Regions from separate parts of the Homo sapiens genome. Here region 1 is linked to region 2. Evidence: fine-mapped expression QTL. A gene starts in region 2. The other region holds a variant in brackets. All regions are shown on one strand. Distances are between the middles of the regions.

Evidence for each region.
Region 1: its variant is fine-mapped to the expression of ARL4C in monocytes (TOPMed, PIP 0.98).

What each region holds. Positions count from the first base shown.
Region 1 is chr2:234,421,898-234,431,015 of GRCh38, forward strand. No RefSeq gene overlaps it. Among named protein-coding and RNA genes, the nearest start is that of LINC01891, 28 kb to the right of the region's middle. RefSeq lists enhancers at 5,560-6,759, 6,409-6,980, 8,952-9,118. The variant G/A (reference allele first, on the strand shown) is at 4,931.
Region 2 is chr2:234,492,859-234,501,976 of GRCh38, forward strand. It overlaps ARL4C (ARF like GTPase 4C), which reads right to left and starts at 4,223. Exons shown (of 2, transcript NM_001282431.2): 1 at 3,154-4,223; 2 at 183-2,978. The coding sequence starts at 3,728. The coding sequence ends at 2,948. RefSeq lists silencers at 3,801-3,900, 4,011-4,300 and an enhancer at 4,485-5,258.

The DNA.
Region 1 (9,118 bases), 71 kb before region 2:
CACCTGGCTAATTTTTGTATTTTTAGTAGAGACAGGGTTTCACCATGTTGGTCAGGCTGGTCTCGAACTCCTGACCCCGTGATCCACCTGCCTCAGCCTCCCAAAGTGCTGGGGTTACAGGCATGAGCCACCGCACCCGGCGAGTACCAACTCATCTAAATGGAAGTGTGCTCAGATAGCAAGCAGGAGACATGGACTTCTGTGGCTTCCCATGATAACTGGGTTATGAGGACCAACTTTAAGCCTATATGTCAATCAGTTTATATGAGGTTGGACTGATTTCTACTGTGTGCAGCCTCTACAGGAGCATTTATACTGGTTTCCTTTTTTTTTTTCTTTCTACCTGTAGATATCTTTAAGATAAACAAGCTGAACACCATTAACTATGGTAACCTCTGCCATGCTGTCTCTGTTCCTTGAGATCAGATAGAGCCCGGACAGCAAAGAAGCACGTGGCCCTGATATTAAGATACAAGCATGCCAACAGCTTGCATTAGTATTTGTGGAATGGATGAGTGAGTCATGATATATTTCCCCAAGCTTCAGCTGGGTGTGTTTTTCATGTAACCATTACTCATAAAGTGTAAAGGTCAATTATGTTAGGAAGGAAGGAATGATTTTTGTCATCCATGCATAGGACACTCAGGTATGCTTCCCTGAGCTTCATGGAGCATGGTTCCCTGAGCTCACTCCTGCAAAGGCCACGCCTATTCATGAATGTTGACATTAACCAGAAGGTAGGGACTGTATATGTGAATTGAGCTTAAATCTGAGCTGAGGAATTCTATGACAAGTAACTTCAAACACGTCACTGAGTTTGAGTTTACCATAATGCATAAGACTATTTCTAAAACTTGTAATTGCTTCTGTTTATTTACAGAGTTTGATGCATATTTGAGCATTTATTTACTTATTCAAAATTCAAAAAGTTCCAAGAAGTATAAAAATGGCTGAACAGTGGCAAGAATTTTAGAAACCATAGAAAAAAACCCGACATTATTAGGGAACAAAACAAATAGACTAGGAGATAAAAATGAAGTTTTGTGTTGCAGAAGCTGGCAGGGATCCCCAGTGAGAGAAAAGAGGTATCAGGATGAGGAGAATGATAACCACAGCCTCATCACATAGGAGAGCGGCTGCTTCCGTCAACAGGGTGTGTGCTCACAGCTTCAGGTCTGCACCGCACAGCATGATGCTGAGACAGGAGGTCAGCACGTCACATAATTACAACTATATTCTTGTAGATGGCAGGATAATGGCATCCCCCCACCCTGCCCCCAAAAGATGTCCATGTCCTAATTTCAGGAACCTATGAATGTGTTATATGACATGGTAAAGAATTAAGTTTGTAGCTGGAATTAGGGTTGTCAATCAGTTGACCTTAAAATAGGGAAATCACCTGGGTTATGCAGGTGTACCATCACTAGGGCCCTTAAATGCGGAAGGAGGCAGAAGAGACAGGTGGGCGGGCGCGGTGACTCACACCTGTAATCCCAGCACTTTGGGAGGCTGAGGTGGAGGATTGTTTGAGTCCAGCAGTTTGAGACCAGCCTGGGCAAGATAGTAAGACTTTGACTCTACAAAAATAAAAAACTAACCAGGCATGGTGGTGCATGTCTGGGGTCCCAGCTACTCAGAAGGCCGAAGTAGGAGGATCACTTGGGCCCAGGGGGGTTGAGGTTGCAGTGAGCCATGCCACAATTTTGTCTGCACTGCAGCCTGTAGTGCAGAGCGAGACCCTGTCCCCATCCCCCACCAAAAAATAATAATAATAATAGACAGGTCGATGAGATGTGACAAAATATCAACCCTCTGTTAAGGCCACCAAAAATAAAAAATATTAAAAGGACACACAGCCCTGCCAACACCTTGATTTTAGCTCATGCCAGACTTCTGACCTTCAGAACTCTAAGATAATAAATTTGGTTTGTTTTAAGCACCACATTTGTGGTAATTTGCTACAGCAGCAATAGAAAACTGATACAATTATATTAATAATTTTAAAGACGGCATATTTTGCCAGGTAGAGTGAATCATCATTTTGAATGACTTTGAATCCAGAAGAAAATTTATGTAAGGAAAGGGCTTAATTGAAAACTAAAACATGAAAGTTCTTGGTGGCTGTGAAGGTTTTTCCTAGGACTGGAAATCCCCTGGGCTCCCCTCACACTTTGAAGTCAACCTAATTGGAGGGCCATGCCTCGATCCTTTCGGGAGATAGGTGTCCCTGTTAGAGTCTTCAGGTGTATGTTATACTTCAGGTGTCTGCAATTACCTTACCCAGGCCTATAAGCTCCTTGAGAACAGGGAACGTATTTGTCTAATTTTCAGGACCAAATGCAACATCCAGCCTCTAATTGGGGCTTAATAGGTATTTGTTGAATAAATATTTCCAGTGTCATTGATGCAATATTCTGACAAGTAGAAAGATCAAAGCTGGGAAGACGGGGGCTGGGGTGGAAGGAAAATAAATGACGTTTTGATTTTTTAAAGGAACAAAACTTTAGATAAGGCCAGTTTCAAATCATCTTGGCTTTGTTGTGTTTTCATCTCTCCAGAATTGGACTTCTGTGCTCAATTCAATGAAAACACTCAGAGCACAGATTGGGATCACGGACTTATTTTCAAAGCATGTTCCCACACATATTAACAATTGCTCAAAATTAACTGTAGCATCTGTTTAAAGTTGAATCAAATTGAATTCTCTATTTATAAAAATGGAGTTTACATAAGAGAATGGAAACCATGTACAGACATTTAGCATGACACTTCTGCTTACACCATTTCAACAAATAAAAAGAAATTATTGTTCTGGGAGAAATACACATTCCAAATCTTTGTAAAATGAAACCCTTCAAAATTAGGAAATGGAACAACTCTTTTTTTTTTTTTTTTTGAGACAGTCTTGCTTAGTCATGTTGCTCAGTGCAATGGCGCGATCTCGGCTCACTGCAACCTCTGCCTCCCGGGTTCAAGCGATTCTCCTGCCTCAGCCTCCTGAGTAGCTGGGATTACAGGCACCTGCCATCATGCCCAGCTAATTTTTGTATTTTTGTAGAGATGGGTTTCACCATGTTGGCCAGGCTCATCTTGACCTCAGGTGATCTGCCTGCCTCGGCTTCCCAAAGTGCTGGGATGACAGGCGTGAACCACCGCACCCCACCAGAAATGGAACAACTCTTAATGAGTGACATGAGCTACCAGATAAAGGAACACTATATAAATTTCAGGGTCCAGGGTCCTAGAAGTGCCTGGAGCTGAGCCCCTGCTCCCCAAGTCTGTACACATGCACCCTGGGTGCTCAAGCCACAGGCCCTGTTGTAATGGGAAGAGAGAATTCCCTCTTGCAGGAAAGCGGGCTACAAAGATGAAGGGTGGTGGGTGGCAAGAGAGGCCCGGACACACCCTGGGCCCAAGCCTCACTGGTAATGGTTGGAGGGTGGTGGGAAAAGCCATAGGAGATTCTGGGGGAGGTCACAGGGATGGGGGTGAGAGCGAGCTAAGTGGTAGCCAGTGGCGGGGCCCCTGGTGGTTGGGTTTTATTGGGAATGAGGCCGGGCAGGGAGTGACTATAAGACCCAGCTGGTCGTGGCAGAGGTGGGAAGGGAATTTAGGGAACTTGCTCTCTTGGCTTCATGTCTGGGGACACAGCACGGGTGAGGCTGGTGGGTGGGTTGACCTGCTGGTGGTCCCTTCAGACCCCTGTCCCAGTTAGTCCCTGGGGACCCGTCCCTTTGGACCTGACTCCTTGGGGTTGAGTTTCCCCTTTCACCTGGCCAGGATTTAGCATCTTCTTCTGGAGGAATGAGGAGGTTTGGGTGACCTGCCTCTTCCTCTTTCACCTGGCCAGGCTTTAGCATCTTCATCTGGAGGAACAAGGAGGTTTGGGTGACCTGCCTAGTGCCAGGGCAGGACGACTGCCACCCTGAGTCATGTTCTGCTGGTGTCTTTCAATTAGGCAGGAAAGCTCACTTCACAAGGAGCTTCTGTGTCACTGGAGTTATATGGAAATGAGGACATCAACGCAGCCCTCAGGGGCATGCGGGAAGAAGCAGAGGATGGGCCAGAGAGGGTCCTCCCTACCCTCCTCCCAGGTTTGGCCCTCTAGGCCACTCTACCCACTGCATACAGGGATGGGTGTGGTGCCCAGTTCCTCACCCTCTGGGACATAGAACTCCACCTACCCACAAAACCCACTTCCTCAGAAGCGTTAGGGCTGCCTCGGTGCCCTAACTGCAGGTGTGCAGGGCGGGGCTGAGGAAGAGGCAGTTAGGGCTGAACCCAGCAGGAGGGAAGCAAGCTCGCCCAGCTCTAGGTTTCTTGTGAACCCTCAGGACCTGCCTTTGGAGGCAGGTCCTGAGACTGCTGGAAGAAATGAAAATGATGACGATTACAAAGATGAAGGGAGAGAGTGTTAATGAATCACAGATCTTCCTTCCCCTATCAGGTCACCTTGTGTCAGTTTAACAATGACCACCCCCCCCCCAAAAAAAAAAAGCCACACACACACACACTGAGAAGGGAAACACTTTGTTTTTCTGCACTGTCTGAGCTCCATCAGATAATGGAACTGCTGAGCTCTCTGTTCTGCCACTCCACATTGATGGATTTCATGGCAGAGTAACACTTTGGAAATGAAAGTTTCTCTTCTACTTCCTAAGTGAGGGAGACCCAGAATCCAAGAAAGGATCCTTGGCTCAGGAAATCATCTGCCATCGGTGGCCAGGGGCAGCTGGAGCGTCAACATCTAACCTGTGGGAAGATGTACCCTCTGCAATAGGCCCCTCTGCCCCATCCCCAGAAGTCCCCAAAAGTTTCCAGGAGTGTCAACAGATGGGGGAGGGATCAGCCACTCTCACCCTCTGAACTGTGAGGGTTTCTCTTCCCATTTCTCTAGGAAGCAGTGGCCATGTTGTTGCCCAAAGCAGAT[G/A]TCAAAAGAGAAACTTAGAAGAGGCTTCTGAGACTAGCAACCCTCCCACTCAGGATGGAACCAAATTCAGGGAGCACGTCTCCCCACACAGCTGAAATTAATGCAGAGGTGAACGCCTTCTCCCTCGGAAGCAGAGCAAGAATGATTCTTGATTACACTGAGCCTATGGAACAGCCCCCACTGTTCAAGAGCCAAGATTAGTGTGAAGCACCTCTCAATCATTTAAGATTTGATTGTTTAACATGAGGCTGGGTGGGTTCGTCTCAGTGCTGATGTCAACAATCGACCCCATCGTCCACATGGCTCCCTGGGTTGCACCATGAGCCAGCCACTGCTGCTTCTGGGTGCCAGGCTGTCCGGCAAATCCTCTGACCCCCGTCTCTCCCTTCTAGATTTTTCTGAGCTGCCACTTCCTCTCACCCTCCAGGCAGGCAGAGCCTGAAACCCCCTCTCTCAGAAAGGGTTGCATCAAACTCATTTGATGCACACAAATTCACCGAGGGAGAATCCTTTGACAAGCAGGCTCTGGGGCCCTGGGGCTGGGGCTTGAGAGCCTGGGTCTCTAACACACCCAGCAGTTGCTGATGGCGGGGCCAGAGCTGGAGTGGCCAAGGTTTTAGAGCAGTACTTATGGTGGGTCTCTCTCTAGCTGGGCCATCCTTGAGGCCATCCTCTTCATTTCAGATCAGTTTGCCCCCTCCCCATTTCTCAAAGCTGCTTACTGTTTGCTGGAAGGGAAGGCTGGACTCCTCCACCCCACCTTCCACCCCCACCTTCCTTTCCCCTCCGCCCCACACCCGTTTCTCTGCTCCCTAGTCTGTTTCCTGTACAACTTTAGGACATGGCCTTCATTCATGTTACCTTTCTGTTGTTGTTTTTTTATGAGCTTTAGTTAAGATAACTAATTGCTGCAGACAAAACCAGCTCAAAACAATTTAATCCACACTTTGAGAGAGGGAGAAAGAAATGCACTCTGCAGAGGAATCTGAAGAATGTAGAGAACCATCCAATCAACGACTATTCCAAGCATTTCCCTGAGAATGCAAACTTCCACCCACCTCAAGCCCTCCAGGAACTTGCCATTTTCACCACATCACTATGCAGCGTCACACCAGGAAGTACCCAGAAAACTTCGCACGATCCTCCGGAAGCCTCACCCCTTATCGGTGACCACCCTTCTGCTATATCCAGTCTTTTTCTCAGCATAAGTGTTTTACATACTTGATATCAGAGTGTAATTTAAAATCTATTTCTTGACTTTTTTACTTAATAAGTTTTTAACTGTCACTAAAAATTCCTGAAAAAATGTTGTATAACTCTTTCCGTTATTTACTTAATCATTTCCCTATTGTTGGAGACATAGAATCCAATTTAGGATTTGTTTTGTGGAAGGTTTCTTTGTTGCTGTTTTTTGAGACGGAGTCTCGCTCCGTCACCCAAGCTGGAGTGCAGTGGCGCAATCTCGGCTCACTGCAATCTCTGCCTCCCGGGTTCAAGCGATTCTCCTGCCTCAGCCTCCCAAGTAGCTGGGATTACAGGCGCCCACCACCACTCCCGGCTAATTTTTGTAATTTTAGTACAAACAGGGTTTCGCCATGTTGGCCAGGCTGGTCTTGAACTCCTGAACTCAGGTGATCCGCCCGCCTTGGCCTCCTAAAGTGCTGGGATTACAGGCGTGAGCACCGTGCCTGACCTGTTTTGTGGAACTTTTGAAAGCACAGAGAGGCATGCTCACATCTCATGGACACCACCCGAGTTAGATTAACTTCCTTTCAAACTGGAAGTAGAAGGAGACCATGTTTTCATTTGCCCACTCACTCACTCAGCAAATTTCACAGCATATTCCCCGTGTGCCAGGTATTCAGGGAAAGCCCGTTGTCCGTCTGAAGTCTATTAAGAGGTTAAATAGTCATCAGTCCACTTCAAGCTGGTCGATCGCCTTTGAGCATGGGAGGTAAGAGCTAACTTTGCAGTAAACCGCTCAACACAGAAACCAGCAAGGGCTTCCACATGCAGCCCCGTTCCTGGAGCAACAAATCACAACATCCGTCACTGTAGACTCTGGCCTGACACAGATGGTCCCCACATTCTTGAAGGCAAGGACTAAGAAAGAGTGGGTCAGGGTCCGTTTGGAAATTATTTTCAGGAAGCTGGCCCTCTGAGGCCAAATGGTGGGAGGTGGAGGGGACTAGACTTGGGCGGGAAGAAACATCCTCATCCATCCTCATCCTTATGGAAACCTGTGTCCCAGTTCCCTGTCTGCATCTTCAGGTGCCTCTGGTACAAGTCTATGTGGATGCCTGCCTCAAACTCATCACACAGAAATGCAGCACTCTCGCCCGCTGCACTGTGGCCCCTTCCAAATGTAGCCCCCTTGGAGAGACACGTATCGCCCACTAAGTGGATCCACTGCAGCCTCCACACTATCTGGGTTCCTCTCTCCCTTTCTCCTCCAAGTCAGCAGGTGACAGGCTCGCTTTGCTTGTGCCTTCCAAAGAACAGAGACTCTAGCATGTCTGCCCTTCGATGGGCCGGCTTGGCCTGGCTGTCTCCTGCTTCCTCAATGGTTTCCTGGGAATACCTGCTGGTAGGTGGGGGATGGCCTAATCCCTGCCAGAGACTCCTTGGCCTTTGATCCTGGTGAGCTGTGCTAGTCCACGTGCAAACACAAAGCCTCTGTTCTCTTTTGGAGGCCTTTTGCATAGTCTGACAGCTGAGCTGGAGATCCAGGCAGGCCTGCACTTAGCTGTGCTCTTGCCTCCAAGGACTGTTCCAACGTGGGGCCATGATTCAGCCTCTTTGAGCCTCAGATTCTTCTCTGTACACTGGAGATAAGGATGCCCACCTCACAGGGCTGTTTCAGCGATCAGATCTGTAAAGCACTTAGCGTTATGTGTAGGAAGAACTCAATACATAATATTAATGCTGAGTATAATTACTGTTATTCCTCAGTAGGCTTCCAGGCCTGCCTGCCCTGAGTCCTCTTGGTCTTCCCTGTTTTATCTCCCCAGCTACAGGAGAGAAGTGACTTGCTCTCCATCCCTCCGTCAATGAAGGGGCTAGGCCATGCACTGTGCTTTGGTGCCCACTGTTCTACTTGGTTTACATCAGAGAAGGAAGGATAATATTAGAAATTATATAGATAGGCCGGGCACGATGGCTCACACCTATAATCCCAGCACTTTGGGAGGCCGAGGCGGGCGGATCACCTGAGGTGAGGAGTTCGAGACTAGCCTGATCAACATGGTGAAACCCCATCTCTACAAAAAATACGAAATTAGCTGGGTGTGGTGGCACATGCCTGTAATCCCAGCTACTCAGGAGGCTGAGGCAGGAGAATTGCTGGAACCTGGGAGGTGGAGGCTGCAGTGAGCTGAGTTCATGCCATTGCACTCCAGCCTGGGCAATAGAGTGAGACACTGCCTCAAACAAACAAACAAAAAAAAAGTATATACATGTGGCATAGTAACCTCATTATGAAAACCATAATCTTGGTCATAATCATGCATGAATGTTAGAAAAATATCCAGTAAAATCCCACATTAATCTTTTTTCACTCTGACCATCAGAATTTTCTTGGAAGTTTTCATCACTATTAAGCAGACTCCAAAAATTAAAGTTAATAATGATCTGGATTAAAGATGCAAAATAATTATTGCTTGCATATATGTTGTAGGGGCCAAAGCGAAACCTTTGGCCCTCTGAAGTTTCACTGAAAAATCAACTCGCAAAAGACAGATTAAGGCCGGGCACTGTGGCTCAAACCTGTGATTCTAGCACTTTGAGAGGTTGGGGTGGGCAGATCAGTTGAGGTAAGGAATTCAAGACCAGCTTGGCCAACATGGCAAAACCCTGTCTCTACTAAAAATACAAAAATTAGCTGGACGTGGTGGTGTGTGCCTGTAATCTCAGCTACTCAGGAGGCTGAGGCATGAGAATCCCTTGAACCAGAGAGACAGATTCAGAGGTTGCAGTGAGCCGAGAGCAGGCCAGCGCACTCCAGCCTGGGCGACACAGCAAGACTCTGTCTGAAAAAAAAGGCAGATTAATAGGAGAAAAGGCATACAAAGTTATTCAACGTGTGTATACACAGGAGCCCTCAGAATAAAGAGCCCACCCCCAACAAAGTACAGAAGCTTAAATATACCATCTTGAGGTTACAGAATGAATGGAGGCTCAGAGCATGGC
Region 2 (9,118 bases):
CCGGATCCACCATTCACGGCAGAGCTAGACCCTGACACCAAAAATTGAGATGACTGATATACCGACTAGAACTCCAGACACCATCTTGTGATCCATCCCCCCACTCAGCAGAGGCCTAGAGAATGAATACCAGCAATGTCAAAAAAACAAACAAAAAATTCCACAGAAAATCTCCCCAGTCATTTGATTGTATAAATAATTTATTTCTGTTCACAGCATCATATATGCATTATAAAAGGCTATGGAAACAAAAGAGAAGGATGATGAGACAGAGAATTACAGCAGTAGAAAGGAAAACAGAAACCAGGGCACACAGTTCCAACACCAGAACAGAGAATTTGGGAAGATAATTGCTCTGAAACAGAACTGGCCTCCCTGTGTCTATTAGAAAACATTTCCAAAGCTCACGGAGGGAGGCCAACTTCCCCTATGGGAAACCCATTCACTCGCCAAAGGGCAGAAGGCATCATAAATCACCCATTGATACATTGGTGGGGGGCTCCCTGTCCCCCTGGTGACCACTCCAAGGTGATTTGATCTGTGCTTCCTCTGTTGGGTCAGAGACGAAACGGGCTATTATTAGGTCAAACATTACAGAAATCAACTGAGACTCTTAACTAGTAGTTGATACACCACAGGGCTTTACTTTACTGCACAATTACTAACAGTTGATTGCACCCTTAAGTATTGATTATGCAAAAAACAAAATCATCTCGCATCAGTTTTAAAGCATGACAGGGTTTGAACAGTGATCTTGAACCTAAGTATTGTTATCATGAGAAGGTTACAGTATTTGGCATCTGCAATGTCACAAAATAAATATATTATTCTCTCAATAGTGTGGAACTACCAAAATGTCAAAGTGCTTAAGAAATTGTCGCATGTGAAGAAAATAAAGAAAGATGGATTTTTTTTTTAATAATTCTATACAGAATCTTCAGATGATGGGACCAGCCCATTTAGAAATCAGTGGATATGCTGTCGATATGTAAACTGAAATCTTGCAGGCTTTTCAACACTGCTTAGCTAGACTTTCTCTACTGAGTTTCTACAAAAAGACCAGCATTGGAGGGGTACCAAATACACCGACAAAAGAGAAAAAGCAGATGGGCTGCTAGGTTTCTGCTTTTAAAAAATTTCATATAAGAATTGGGTTTCAAGCAGGAAGCCAGAACTTCTGCCTCTGGTTCTTAAATTAACATTCGGTGTGTAATGGACAATAGGCAGGGACTCATAATTTGACTAACTCACATGCTCAAGCATGATCGTGTCCAATTTCTACAGGCCTCCTTTGTAAAGAAATGTGTAACAATGGGGGGAAAGTCATAATTCTACCTGAAAACATGGATTGTAAGAGGAAATAAAAAAATCAAACAGTATGTTTTAAGTTTCCCTTTTGATACTGTGTTTCAGGGTAAGTGACAGCTTCTGCAAACCAAGACTCAGTCCTGATTATAAAGGATTTTTAAAATTACATTATTAAAAATATGTATTTATTCTTCTTTCACTTTATCTATTTTCCAAAGCCTCTTTCAAGTAAACTGTGAAGTGCCTGAGTACCAGTGACCATGACGTCACACTTTCTTTTATCTCAAGCACTCATTGTTGTTTGCATTTGCCCAAAGTGCTGGCTGGCTCCGAAGGCCAGTTCCCACAAGAATGAATTCGGAAAGACTTCATCCTTGTGTTTTTCCTTCTCTTTTAATTCCATGCAACGAGGTCAGCTTTTGCAACAAGGTGGGGTTTTATTTTTTTGGTGCATGACATCAAATACTCTAACGAGACATTTTTAATGAAAGACTTAAACCAGATAGGCCACAATGAACCAAATTAGAAATCTGAACATGTCACCACTTGCAGCATAAAGGAATATAAAAGGGCAGAGCAAAGTCTTTTTTCCTAAGGTGAATATTTCTAAGGTAAGTATTCATTTGTAAAAGTTTTTTTTTTTCATCATGTCTGAAAACCCATTATCACGCGGTTAGTATTACAAGAGACATCCCTTGGTTAAAAAAAAAAATACCATCTTGCAATTCAGCACACACCTGCAGCTGGTGTGCTCATCCAAACCAATCAGTAGGCTAAGAGAATTTAAAATTCCATACATATGAGTCTAGGTATTAATGCCGATTACACAGTACACAGTACAGAGGGAGGTCCCTATATCCACACACACACACACCCCATCCAGCATTTACACCAAAAGCCTTACCCTTTAAACACCTTTAACTATCCTGCAAACAGTAAATGCATCATTGGCCACCACCTCCAATAGTTCGTCTTTTTTTTTTTTTATTTTTTTTATTTTTATTGGTCTCTTTGTGTGATAATGACCTACACATGGACAGGGTCCAAACCATCTGGAAGATGTCTGATTCCAGGCTGAAAAGCAGTTCTCAACAAAACTGGTCTTCTGCAGCCACCACAAAGCACCAGGAAAAGGGCACCTCCGCGGCCATCCCCAGCCAGGCCAGCACAGCGCTCCGTGCCCGCTGAACCGTCCCAGGCAGTCCTCTGATGACCCAAACCACCACCACCTTTGGGCCCAGAGCAGGACAAATGAAATTTCAACAGGGGCCTGCCCTGTGACCGAAAATTACTCAGCTTCACAGCCCCTGAATGCAAGGAGAGGTGGTCCCCCCAGAACCAACATGCCCCCCAAGGTGGGTACGCCCACGGTTCTGGGAAATGCATACCTCAGGTAATTCACAGGTGCGATCCCCCAGTGGAGGCGGGGCAGCCTGAACTTCTGGCCCTGCAGGAGTGGGAAGAAATCGCTTTTGTCTTTCCGACAACTGAGCCTTCCACCTGGGGCTGGGAGGGCGGACAGCAGGACCGGCTCTTCCACTCCCCACCGCGGCCCCCCGACCTGGTCAGTAGCTCTGGCGTTCAGACAAAAGGTCCCCTGAGCTGGGGGTGGGGGGCAGGTCGAGAGTAGGCCGGTAAATCAGACTTCGCAGCTCCTTAAGTCACCAGTCCTGCATTTGGGTGCAGAGATTCCGTTTTAAAAATTCGAAGCATCGCTTTGGTTCGCTCTTTGTTCGCGGGCGCGGGTTCTCGCTCATCCATCCATCCATCCATCCAACCATCCATCCATCCATTCATTCTTTCTTGACGCACTCGCTCGCTCCCCGGTCGCTCCGGGCGCATTACCGCTTCTTCTTCTGCTTGAGGGACTTCCTGCGTTTCAGGATCATCTCATAGAGCTTGTCCATGCCCTCGGTGAGGCCCTCGCCGATGATGGCGCACGCCGGCTGGACGTGATAGGTGGTGGCCGGGATAAGCTCGTGCAGCGCCAGCTGCTTCTCAATCTCTGCCACCGGCAGCGACTTGGGCAGGTCCTGCTTGTTGGCGATGACCAGCAGCGGCGTGCCCTGGTTCTCGGCGAACTTGGTCACCTTGTGCAGCTCCGTCTTGGCCTCCTCCAGCCGGTCCACGTCCACCGAGTCCACCACGTAGATGATGCCGTCCGTGCAGCGGCTGTAGGACTTCCACAGCGGCCGCAGCTTCTCCTGGCCGCCCACGTCCCAGAAGTGGCAGCTGATGCCCTTGGCCGTGCCGTTGCTCAGCTTGATCTTCTCGGTGTTGAAGCCGATGGTGGGCACCGTGTTCACGAACTCGTTGAACTTGAGCCGGTAGAGCACCGTGGTCTTGCCGGCCGAGTCCAAGCCCAACATGACGATATGCAGGGACTGGAAGGCCGAGATGTTAGAGGAGATGTTGCCCATGGCTCCTGGCTGCGGCGCCAGCCACTGCGGCTGCGGCGGGAGGGCGCCGCCCCCCGAGCAGTCACGGGCCCGACGCGGCCGGGCGCACCTGGGCCCCGCCCGCCGCCGCCCGCACCGGCCCCGGGGCTCGGCGTCCCCGCGGGCGCACGGCTTGGCGCGCTCAGACGCCGCAGTCCCCGCGCCCTCGCCGGCCGGGCTCGCGATCGGCGGGCATCGCGTCTCTACGCGCGGCTTTGTCTCCCGCGAAGCCGCCTCAGATGTTCGGCGCCCTCCCCAGGCCTGGGCTCGCTCTGTGGTTTCCTCGGGCCGCGCCCCCGCGCTCCGGCAGCTGCCCGGGCTCTCCGCTCTCCCGGCGCCCGGCGCTCGCCTCTGGCCTGGGACGGCGCTGCTCCTGCTCCTGCTCCCGCTCCCGCTCCCGGAGCGCGGGCTTCCCCGGGAGTCGCTGTCCGCTCGGCAGCCTCACAGTCCCCGCGCCGCCGCAGCAGCCGCCAGCCTGCAGCGGCCGGAGAGCTCCCGGACCCGCCCCCTCGCGCCCCGCCCCGGACCCGCCCCCGGACCCGCCCCGGGCCCCGCCCCGCCCGCCGCCGGGGGTCAGGCGCGGTCCTCCCCGCCCAGCCGGCCGTTTTCGCGCGCTTCGCTGCGTCCCCGCCGCCCCCCGCCGCCCCCCGGCCCCTCCCGCGCCGCGCCGCGCAGACACAATGGGCGCGGAGCCGGCTCTTCCTCCCCAGCGGCTGACGCGTTTGCAAAAATAGCTCTCGGCTCCCGGAATCCCCGCCCGGGTCCTAGCCCGCCCCCTGCCCCTCCGGGCCGCAGCCGTGGGCGACGCAGCCTGCCTGAGGGAGTGGGTCCCGGGGTCCCAGCTCTGTGGGCGCGAGGCGGGGCAGGGCGGCCCCCAGGGTGACTGGGAGAGCGCCGCTCTGGGGAGTGAGGGCGGCGAGGCTGGGGCCTCCAAACCCCAGAAGGGACGGGACGGGGCTGGCCTCGGTGAGCTGCCAGCCTGCGCTCTGGATCCAGCCGGGCGCGTCCCCTCCCACCCTCGCGCCGCGGCTGTCGCCGGCCCCGGCCCCCAGTGACGCCCAGGCTCGCCTCCTGCCTGGGTTCCAGGGGGCTGCACCCGGCCAGCGCCGCCCTCCGGAGCCCAGGCCTGTGCCCAGGGCACCCTGGAGGCCCAGCCTTTCTTGCCCGGTGGCGGCGGTTGGGGCAGGGTCGGACCTAGGCCGCGATGGGGGATTAGAAGACCTACCTGCCCCAAGTAGCTCGGACAGCTCACCCTCCCAGACACGCCTGGGCTACCTCATTTCGTCCGCATCGACTCTGCTGACATCCCAGGGGAAGCGTCAGCATTTCGGGAGAGCACCCCTTGCCACCCGACTTTGGGAACTGAGAACCACCTGCCCGCAGGTGAACTACTCCGCAGAAATGGCAACACCAGCCCCGGGGGCTGAAAGAAAATGTGTCTACAGCTTGGAGCTGGTGGCGCAGTGGGTTACAAACACTGATATTCCACGGGTTCCACCTCCTGTCACCTCAGTTCAATGGTTTTATTCTGGTTTGTAAACATGTAACAAATGTATATCCTCTCTGGGTGCGGAGAAAAGTGAGAGTATATTATGGCAAACACACAGATCTGGGGAGAGCTGCTCCGCAGGAGACAGCAGGCCGCAGCATGGGCGACCGCATCTTCCCAGCTCTAGCTTATGAGACAGAAACGACGGAAACGGGGTCAAGGGAGAAGAAAATGAAAATGCTAAGAATTTATGAATAAAAGCTAGAATTTTAGAGAAATACTTTATCACCTTCTGTTCACAAACCACGAAAAGACATATGATATCGTTGGTACCAAAGCATGTGAGAAGACCTCACCTGTAGAAGGAAGGACAAGCCACCACCACCCCTATCCTTGGAATTCCCAAGGTGGCAGCCGGAGCGACCATCCACTCTACTGAGTGGATTTGGGGCTGGAAACGAAGTATCAGGCTGGAAAGGACCCTGCCTATCATTCCACCCAACGTTGTCCAGTGAGGTAACAAGGCCTAGGCGCCCGTGACGGCTAAGGCAGAACCTAGAGGCCCACTGCCTGCTCCAGGACCAAGGGTCTGTATGCACAAAACTGGGCACCTGCCTGCCCTCTTCCTCACATCCCACTCTACCCACACGCTATTTCCTTCAATGAGGAATAAAGTGAGCCACCCGAAGGATAGAGTTCAACAGAAAATATTGGCTGCACTGTGCCACTTACTTCATTTTAAATAAAAATGGAAATGTATTCACTGACATCACTGAAAAGTTAAGGATAAAGGTCCTCTTCAGGCATGGCTAGACCCAGGAGCTCAAAAGGAGTCTTTCGAGCAGGTGTCTCTCCAGTCCTCCTCCGTGTTCCCCTGTGTTGATTCTTTTTCCTTCTGGCAGCCTTGGACTCACATCCTTGGTTTAGATCCTGGAAAGGAAAAGGTACAACTCTTTCCCAGTAACTCTAACCAAAGCCTGGAGCACGCACCCTGGATCAAGGACTGCAGTCCAGGAGGAGGGAACACACCAGTGGATGTGGCCCAGGGGTTGAAATCGGGAAGGGTGGTTCTCCAAGAAGAATCCAGGATCTGTCACCAAAAGAGCAACTCTAGTGAGGCAACAGAAACAACATATGTTGGCATAATTCATAATGATGATGTTTCCGTTATTGGGAACCCTGGGGAGACAGGATTTTGTGTTTTTGGAGTGATTTTCTTGACTCTCTTTAATGCCTGCCCCATAGATAGCCAGCTTCTCATGAGACTGTTTCTTGTTTCTCTTTCTTCTCTGCCACAGGCAGGGCCGAGGCTGAGCCCCAACCCAAGATGAGCCTTTGGTTTAGTAGCCTGGGACCTGGACATTTGGAAAGAGACAGATCAGACTGGAAGCCTCTCCATCCGGCTTCCACAGATTACCTTTGTGTTACTTCCTTTTCCCCTAGTCAAGACTTGCTTTAAGTTTTAAGGTGGTAGGAAGGAGATATTTTAGTAAAGTATCCGATGTATCTTTTTGGTGCTATGCTAATTATTACCAAGAGCCTCAGTGGTTTTGACTGCAGCCTCCACATTTTGCACCACCATGATGGGGTTTAGCAATAAAGGGCTGTCTGCTGTCCAGTAGGAAAAAACAGATTAATAGACATTAATAGAGCCTTCCAGAACACAGCCATTAAACAGCAACTCACCATAATTGAATAGCAACCACTCTACCTGCTAATTTCACTCACCAGGTGATAAGTTAATTTTACAGTTGATAATTTAACTTCTAACACATAAAAATATCATTTGGTTGAGTCGACTGGTAACTTTCCTTCAAATGTGGATTTTTATTGAAAAACACTGGAATTATGAAAAGGAAGGTAATGTTTACCACTCATATCAGACATGTAAGGCCTACTTTGAGCCTATTTCTTCATGGACATACATCATGGCTAAATTCCACTGAGTGGAAAATATTGGCTGCACTGTGGCACTTACTTCATTTTAATTAATCAGAAGGAGAGATTTTTTCAAAGAATAGCATGTACTTGTGTCTGCCTGAGATGAATTCCTCTTCCAGCAGCAGTGACATTTCAGGTCCTCTCCTTTCTATTCTTCATCAAGATGACTGCATCCAGAGAAGAACTCAATTATTTCAAGCAAACAGAAGGCAATAACTTGGCAGTAATTTTGAAATTGCATCCTAAAATATTCTCTTTTTTTTCCCTTTAAGGGCTTTGAAATAAAATGTGCCACCAATTAAAATGACTTTTGAGTGAATCCGATGAGCAATATATCATGGCATTATTATCTTTGCTTGAGTAAGGCTAATAACCTAAAATGCAAAAGGGAGCATCCCATTTATTCTTGAATATGATGAGTAAATAAAGACCAGAACATGGGCACACGTGTACACACATACACACACGCGCGTGCGCGCATAAGTGTGGGGTTATTTGCATGTTCTCACTGCAGACCTGCTGTGGAACTCTGGGTTCAGGTTCACTGCCCCGGTGCTTAACTGTTATAATACAGGAGTGCCCTCTGCTGAGCTTCTCGGATAATAGATGAAGGGCTCTACAGAGGCACATTGGCCTAGTGCTTAGCAAATGTTCAGTCCATAGTTATGGAATGAATGATGGATAAGTGACCCCCTGCTTTTCTTCTCTCTATGGAGATGCAGGAATAGAGCCCTACTGGTTAAACTGAGAAAGTGCCAGGGGCCCATGGGTGCTTTGCTTGGGGCTCAGAGCTCAGAGCCATTGATGCCAGTGTGGGTCTTGTCTGTGAGACCTGTGGGTTATCTGCTGGGAGAGGGGAGCCAGGAACCTGGCAGAGCAGGAAGTCGCTTTACTAGGAGAACTGTTCAAAGAATCACAATTGGTGGAAGAGATCAGAAAAGAGCATCCAGGAAACCCAGCTGAGACCAGAGAAGGGAAGAAAACTGATTTTTGCATCTAATTCGCAGGCAGGCATGAGCAGCTGTAAATGGAGAATGGGGCTGGGAGTCGAGAATGAAGGAGGCCAGTTGGCAGACAAAGTGACAAGGCCTGAAGCTCCTGAAGCCAGGTGGTCCAGGATTGAAGCCTTTTATCTGTCAGGAGAGGTTCCTTAAGGAAGAACCAAACCAATACTTCCAGAAGCCCCAGGGCATGCTAGACAAACCAGTCACCATCACTGCAGTGCAACCCCCTCAACTCCAGGAGAAACGCCGACTCAGGCTACGTAACAGTGGAAGCCACTAAGACACTGGTGCCAAGGGAAGTTTTGTGGATGGGACGGTAGATCTGGGGGGAGATAAATGAAAATCTGTGATGCCTGCAAGCTCCTGCTTCATTCAAGTGGTCCAAAGCCTGAAAATAAAAAAGATCCACTACTCTATTGGCCATTCAAGTTTATAATTCTAAGGAAAAAAAAATCAGGGTGCCTTATTTTTTATTTTGCTAAGCAACAGGGCTGAAACAATTCAGGTTTTTATTTTCCCAATGATCACCACTGCTAGTGTTTTGTATGGTTGTTGTTGTTGCTGTTTTCTCCAAGAAAAAAAATTTAAATCAAAAAGCTAAAAGGCTCCCCCGCTTCAAGTCTTCCTTAATAATTGTCGATCTCTATTACATTCCTGAGATAGATATAAAATTTTAGAAGCCATTATCTGGGCTGGGCATGGTGGCTCACATCTGTAATCTCAGCACTTTGGAAGGCTAAGGTGGGAGGGTCATCTGAGGTCAGGAGTTTGAGACCAGCCTGACCAACATGGTGAAACCCCATCTGTACTAAAAATATAAAAATTAGCCGAGTATGGTGACAGGCATCTGTCATCCTAGCTATTCTTGAGGCTGAGGCAGGAGAATGGCTTGAACCTGGGAGGCAGAGGTTGCAGTGAGCCAAGATCGCGCCACTGCA